Linked DNA regions of Homo sapiens. The protein of the gene in region 1 interacts with the protein of each later gene in a biochemical or structural test. Each region holds a gene or a part of one and is shown on either strand. Other genes may lie near its edges.

Region 1 (3,749 bases):
TGTCGCCCAGGCTGGAGTGCAGTGGCGTGATCTCGGTTCACTGCAACCTCTGCCTCCCGGGTTCAAGTAATTCTCCTGCCTCAGCCTCCCGAGTAGCTGGGACTACAGGCGCATGCTACCATGCTGGGCTAATTTTTTGTATCTTAGTAGAGACCGGGTTTCACCATGTTGCCCAGGCTGGTCTCGAACTCCTGAGCTCAGGCAATCCGCCTGCCTCGGCCTCCCAAAGTGCTGGGATTATAGGCGTGAGCCACTGCGCCTGGCCAAATGTTTTTTTGAGCCAGCCTTACCATCTTACTGGTTCCCTCATTAATGAGTGAGTTGAATAAAATCTTGGGTATGTGTTAATTCTATATTTGTATGAAAGTCAAGTTTTTTAAAGTTTTCTAAATTATACTTTAAGAATATACTAAATTACACAGCTAATAATTTCAACAATTTCCTCACAGCAGCAAGAGTAATCTTCTTGCACCCGTTAAGAAATTGAATTGGTGTGGGATGGGTCTAGGAAAGAAGTTTAAAATAGGGATTAGTTTGTAAGCGATTGAAATTATCCTAACTAGTTTCAAAGTTCATGTTCCTGGGGAGGGCATGGAGGAGATAGAACATTGAGTAACATTTTCGATGCTTTATAGCCACTCCCTAATTCCATTTTTCACAAAAACCTGTGGAATTTCGTAGTTATTTCTCCATTTTATAGCTGAGGAATTTAAGGCTCAGAGATGTTAAATAACATCTTCAGAGTGGTGGACCCCACATTTGAACCCAAAACATCCCCCTTCCTGTCTTCATTCTGGAGCTTCTTTTACCAGGTGAATGGTGTGACAGCAGACTGGCACACTCCACTGTTTAATGCTTGTGTCAGCGGCAGCTGGGATTGTGTGAATTTGCTTCTGCAGCACGGAGCCAGCGTTCAACCTGAGAGTGATCTGGCATCCCCCATCCATGAAGCTGCTAGGAGAGGTAAATCTGTTGAGAATTTTTTTTTCTACCCACTCCTTCAAGGGACATCTTACTGCTGAAAGAAAGAAAGAAAAGGAGATATATTTTAGAGCAGTAGTTCTCAAAATGGAGTCCCAGGACTGGAAGCATCAGCATGACCTGGCCTGCAAATGCAGATTCTTCGGCCTCACTCCAGCCCCATTGAATCAGTAACTGGGGATGGGGCTCAGCCCTCTGTATTTTGTTTAATAAGCCCTCCAGCTGCTTTCTGGTACACAGTAAGTTTGAGTGCCTCCCTTTTAGAGCATTTTGAATGTTTTTCACTGCTGTATTACTGAAACAGGGCTTGGCACATAGTAGACTATCCATCAATATTTGTGGAATCCGTTGTTATACCCGTGACCTTATAGAAATCAAGTTATTTCATAAAACAAATTATATTCTTCTATTTCAGGGCCTTAAAGAACATTGTCTCAGTGACACTTAAGTTTGCCAAATGAAATAAGCTTTCAATTTTTGAAAGTATTTGATGTTGCATACAGTTTGGGATAATTCTTTTCATTAAAGCCATAATTTTTCTGATAGTCTTAGCTCATAAAATCACAAGTTTTTATTTTCTCCAATATTTAGCATCATCGTAATGACCATACCTTGCCAGAGGGCTTTCTGTTTCTCCAGTGGCTTTCATAGAATGGCTTCCCATTTGACTGGACCAACCCACTCATAATGATCTCCCAAAGCATTAATATTATTTATTGAGAACATCTTAACTCATCATATTCGCTGCATACATAGAACTAAAATACAGCAAGAGAAACGTAGAGGAGCAATGTCAAAAATATGACATCCTGGACCAAGGAAGTGTGATTCAGCTTTCACCTAGTTTTTCAGATTGGGCCCTGCTCATGTTGGATTTGGCAGTTTCTTCTAAGCATTGCCTATACCCGCTGTGGCCTGTTCCTCCCGGGCCTGCCTTTGGAGAGGTTGTAAGTTTCCTTCCCTGTCCCGTGGCCCACACTGTGCCCTTTATTCTTCAGTTCCACCTTCAGGTCCTGTTCCTCCATATCTCTCCCAAGCTCTCACTTCAATTTCTGTACTTAGACAAACTACAAAGCCACAGACAATTGAAAAAGGTGGATAGTTGCTGGTTGGTTACCGTGGCTAGTAAACTCAAATGGAGTTTCACCCGTAGTTGCAGATTGCATCCTATGGTCAAACCATTAACTGATAGCAGTGGTTAAAATCACTCCTGATTTGGCCGGGCCTGGTCTCACGCCTGTAATCCCAGCATTTTGGGAGGCTGAGGCGGGCGGACCACGAGGTCAGGAGATTGAGACCATCCTGGCTAACACGGTGAAACCCCATCTCTACTAAAAATACAAAAAAGTTAGCAGGGTGTGGTGGCGGGCGCCTGTAGTACCAGCTACTCGGAGGCTGAGGCAGGAGAATGGCGTGAACCCAGGAGGCGGAGCTTGCAGTAAGCCGAGATTGCGCCACTGCACTCCAGCCTGGGGGACAGAGCGAGACTCCGTTTCTAAAATAAAATAAAATGAAATAAAATAAAATCACTCCTGATTCTAATTGAAGGAAATAGCTTTTTGGTCCCCTGGATAAGCTGCTGCCAAATTTAATGCAAAATGGGGATGGCAATGTCTTTCTAGCTAAGGGAACTTGTATTGTAACTGTTTTTCTTCCTGCTTTGGGCTGCAGGCCACGTGGAGTGTGTCAACTCTCTTATAGCTTATGGGGGCAACATTGACCATAAGATCAGCCACCTGGGCACTCCACTCTATTTGGCTTGTGAAAACCAACAGAGAGCCTGTGTCAAGAAGCTTCTGGAGTCAGGTAAAGCAAAAAGCAAACCAAAACAAGAAAAGAAAACGAAAAGTAAATTAAATGTATTTTAAACATCTTACTGCTGTAGGAGAGAAATTAGTGTGGGCAATGGAGTTGGACAAGGTCAGGGTTCATATTGACTGTGTTCCCTTGGGGAATTATTTCACACTGTTTGAACTGTAGTTCTCTCATTTGTAACAAGGATGAGGAGGAGGAGGAGGAGGAGGAGGATGATGATGATGATGATGCCTCTTCTCAGGGTGGTCCTCAATGATTATTAGTTTCTCCTCCCTTTCCTCTGTCTCCCTCCATTTGGCCAGTCACATTATTAAGCCCTGCATAACTTGCAAAGCTGTTGGATTAGTGTTGAATCTTCCTATTTGGGACCTTAACCAGTTCTCTTTGATTAGATATTGAACTTGCCCCATTGCAAATATTATATTTTCCTTGAAAAGGCCTATGTACCCTTATTTCTTTTCACCTCCCTGCTGTTGTCCAGCCCCCTTCTCAACACCTGGAACACCATTTCATCACCTCTTTAATTATCTGAGTCCTATTTATTCTTTAAGGCTTCAGTAATCTGTTTCCCAATGAATGTTGTTGCAGTCCTTATTGCCTCCTACTCATCTGGCAGGCATTGCTATGAATTAAGAGATGCAATCTCTGTCTCTCCCCCACTGCCCACCCCACCTCTGCCACTCTGGGCAGATTTTAAGCCTCTAGCCTGGAAAGGGCCATGTTTGATATCCCTCACAAAGTCAGGAACAATACAAGACCAGATCAGTTAACATTTGTTGAGTGGACATAGATTTTCATTTTACCAGAGGGATGGCAGCTCAGGCAAAGCCACATGTTCCCACATGTCACAGTGAAAGCTAGGCTCTGGGCTGGGGTGGGGATTTGTTAAGAGTGTAAGAGTGGAATTGGGTGGGGACAGTCCTAGAAATCCACCTTACTCCTGAAAGGGAGAA
Region 2 (3,749 bases), on another chromosome or scaffold:
CCTAGGTAAAGAGGCCCCACAACACAGGTAACATTTTCCACACTACAGCTGCATAACTCTGTTCTCTAATAATTGATGTCTTACCAGAAGAAGAAGGGATGGACCCAAGAGAGAAGTGGACACTTCTAAGAATACCCACAAATGACAAAGGTAGAATAAAAGGACACAAGGAAGGCCTAAGGAGAATGAAGGGAATGAGAGTAATATGGGGGAATTTTCTATGTAAAGGGAATTCTCTTTCCCAAATACTCTCTGTTAAGATTTCCAAGTATCTGTCTTGTGGGTACACCAGGATAGCAGAGGGAAGGGACTAATGCCACGGTGCTACTCCACCTTAACTGACCCTCCACGCTGAAGCCCCTCATCTCTATTTCAACTCTAGCATTCATTCTCCTTGCTACCAGGACAAAGGTCAAATCATACCTGGAGCTGGGAAACAAAGCCCTCTCAAATCTGAATATGTGTTTCACGAGGAGAGAGAGAGCAGCAGAGGGGACCACGAGGAAGGCAGAGATTCCCTGACGACCTCATGCCTTTGTACACCACTCGCCTTTACTCTCTGGATTAAACAGCATTAGGGAGACAAGAGAGGAAACACATGTGGTGTCTGGAGACCTGTGCCTGCCTGTTCCAGTCCCACACCCAGTCATCTCACCACACCCTTCACCTCACTTTACCTTCTCCTCCAGCACAGGAACTAGGAACTACGGAGAGAGAAGCCAAGGGAGAGGAGGAGGAGGAAACTAACGATTCCCTGCCCACCCCCACACCCAGCACCACCAACAGGTGGGCAAGCTTGCCGAGAAAACGCAGAGGGCATCCTGTGAGCAGCAAACACATCTGAGCCTGGAAAAGACGCAGAGAAGTAAAAGATCAAAGGTGAGGTAGGGGACGTGGAGGAAAGTGGGAGAGACAAAAGGAAAACAAAAAGTGGGGGATCATGAGAAGCAGAGGCAGGAAATAACAGGGCTTCAGACTTGGGTGCAGAATGGAGGTGGAGGACACAGCACAGATGGCATAAGAATTAATATTTCCTTGGTTCCTCCCAGGGAGTCCTTTCTCAACTTTGTAAGGCGTGCACAGAGGTGGCAAGGAAGCACCTTGCTCCTCTTCCTGGTTCTAAGGAAAAGGTGACCTTGAGCCAGTGGGTGTCTTTCCCAGTGCCTGCCTCTAACCCTGTGCTTTCTCCATATCCTCCTCTGGTATCTGTGTTTATTCCGCGGTTTCCCCGCGGCTGCCCCCGGGAGACCGAAGAGGTGGCTGGGGCAGGCCGAAAGCAGAGGAAAGGTTGGGCAGTGTCACCCTTGCACACCCACAGGGTAGACGGATCGAGTTTCAGCTTAAACCGAGGGGTGTGGGGGAAGGGTGTTGGGTTCAGCTAGTCCACGTGGGTGCTGTCCTCCACTTGGTGCTGAAATCTGGGCGGCCACATCCCCGGGGCGGGAGGGGGCTACATCCCCGGCTTTAGACGCGCGAGTCTCAGGTCCCGCTAATTACCTGGCGGGTGCTGCCCACCCCTGCCCTCGCGCACCTAGCGCGGTGGCAGGCGGGAAGGCGGGGCCTGGGGGAGCCCCACCCCTGGAGACTGCGGCTGGGGCCTCCCTCTCCTCCGCCCGCCCGCCTGCCACTAGCTCATTGCGCCTCTCCTGCAGTCTGATTGGCACCGGCTCCCATTCCGGCTCCAGCCTCCAATCCGACCCCCATTTCGGCTGCAGCCTCGGACCTAGCTCCGGCCCTCGGTCTATCCGGTTGCATCCTCCCTCCCTGTTCCGGATCTTATCTTGCGCCAGCGCCTACTCCAGGATCCCGTAGCCAGACCTCAAGCCATGGCTGGTCCCTTCTCCCGTCTGCTGTCCGCCCGCCCGGGACTCAGGCTCCTGGCTTTGGCCGGAGCGGGGTCTCTAGCCGCTGGGTTTCTGCTCCGACCGGAACCTGTACGAGCTGCCAGTGAACGACGGAGGCTGTATCCCCCGAGGTAACAGTGCCTGAGGCGCGGGAGGAGGCGGGGGCAGGAGGTGATGGGAACGAAGGTGCGGGTAGAAGTGAGAATCCGGGCAACAGAGAAGGGCTATAATCACGAAGGCCCTGGAGCTGGAGGGCTGTGCAGTCTGCAGACCTCAGTGGGGTGGGGGTGGGGGCCAAAACCATAAAGCAAGAACATTCCTGGGGACCTGCCAAGACCAGCTCTGGCCCTACGAGTTCTAGCTGCACTGGCTGCCCAAATCCCTAATTGTAAAGCCAGGAACTATCCTTTTCGCTCCCCTCCATCTCCTTCCCTCATTTCCTCAATTCCTCTCCTTAGGCTTTTCCCCTCCTCCATCCGTAGTGTTGTGTCATGGGAGGAAAGAACTGAGCAGATCTGAAGAAACTGAGCTGGCCAGCCAGAGGCAACTAGAACTATTAGGAAAGCATAGACTCTGAAAGTCCCTAAAGAGATTACCAAGGTTTACCCTCTTTCTAATTCCCCCTCCTCCCGCGGAGCAAAGCCAGACATGGCCAACTGGACAGCTCCCAGGTAACTGCACTAGGTCTAGGCGTCTGTGCCCTCCCTCCATGGTTACTGGGTACCCCCTCCCCAGCGCTGAGTACCCAGACCTCCGAAAGCACAACAACTGCATGGCCAGTCACCTGACCCCAGCAGTCTATGCACGGCTCTGCGACAAGACCACACCCACTGGTTGGACGCTAGATCAGTGTATCCAGACTGGCGTGGACAACCCTGGCCACCCCTTCATCAAGACTGTGGGCATGGTGGCTGGAGATGAGGAGACCTATGAGGTAGGGGGTCCCCAGAGTCTCCCTGATGATCCAATTCATCTTCCCAGTAATCCCAGCTCCTTTCCCCTAAAGACCTCTCACTTTCCCCCAAGACTCTGAGCCCCCCATACTTAAGTTTTCTGAACCAGTGAAATCAATGCACAATTGAAGTCTGGGGAGGGATTCCCTCTCCTTAACCATCTCTCCCTCTTAACTCCCCTTAGGTATTTGCTGACCTGTTTGACCCTGTGATCCAAGAGCGACACAATGGATATGACCCCCGGACAATGAAGCACACCACGGATCTAGATGCCAGTAAAGTGAGTTCAAATATCCCACTTCTGATTTGCATTGCCTGTGTACAACACTCTGTATCTCCAACCCCTTCACCTTATTTCCTGACTCATGGTCATTATACAGCTGAGCTTTTAATCTTAATGTAAGGAAAGAATCATATCTTAAGGGGCAGCATATATGGAGATGGAAGGATAGATAAGAATGACCATGACCCAAGGTGGGTGGTTTGGGGAAAGGTCTGCAATGCCCCCTTCAATTCCAGTGCTTTCCCAAAGGGCCTCTTCTTCCAATGCATGCAGGAAGAATGCACAAAGAGTCCTCTAATGCCTAAGGAAGGTCTCTCCTTTCCCAGGGGCCCTCAGTTCCCACCGTGTTTCTGTGACTTACATTCATTTCCCTTATCTCCCAGATCCGTTCTGGCTACTTTGATGAGAGGTATGTATTGTCCTCTAGAGTCAGAACTGGCCGAAGCATCCGAGGACTCAGTCTGCCTCCAGCTTGCACTCGAGCAGAGCGACGAGAGGTGGAACGTGTTGTGGTGGATGCACTGAGTGGCCTGAAGGGTGACCTGGCTGGACGTTACTATAGGCTCAGTGAGATGACAGAGGCTGAACAGCAGCAGCTTATTGATGTGAGGGCCTTAAGAGGGTGCTGGTTGGTGGGAGCAGATGGGGAAGGCTGGGCCAGATGAGACA

Evidence for each region. The genes of interacting proteins can lie anywhere in the genome.
Region 2: of the proteins of ASB9 (region 1) and CKMT1B, one has a biochemical effect on the other in vitro, tested with the Homo sapiens proteins (one study listed by BioGRID).

The regions. Positions count from the first base shown.
Region 1 is NC_000023.11:15,249,468-15,253,216, reverse strand, and holds part of ASB9 (ankyrin repeat and SOCS box protein 9), read left to right. Parts: intron 1-812; coding exon 813-963; intron 964-2,652; coding exon 2,653-2,787; intron 2,788-3,749. UniProt on the Homo sapiens protein: Substrate-recognition component of a cullin-5-RING E3 ubiquitin-protein ligase complex (ECS complex, also named CRL5 complex), which mediates the ubiquitination and subsequent proteasomal degradation of target proteins.
Region 2 is NC_000015.10:43,592,393-43,596,141, forward strand, and holds the start of CKMT1B (creatine kinase U-type, mitochondrial precursor), read left to right. Parts: upstream 1-1,634; 5' UTR 1,635-1,826; coding exon 1,827-1,975; intron 1,976-2,302; exon of another isoform or gene 2,303-2,486; coding exon of another isoform or gene 2,487-2,579; coding exon 2,580-2,778; intron 2,779-2,981; coding exon 2,982-3,077; intron 3,078-3,463; coding exon 3,464-3,685; exon of another isoform or gene 3,686-3,686; intron 3,687-3,749. UniProt on the Homo sapiens protein: Reversibly catalyzes the transfer of phosphate between ATP and various phosphogens (e.g. creatine phosphate).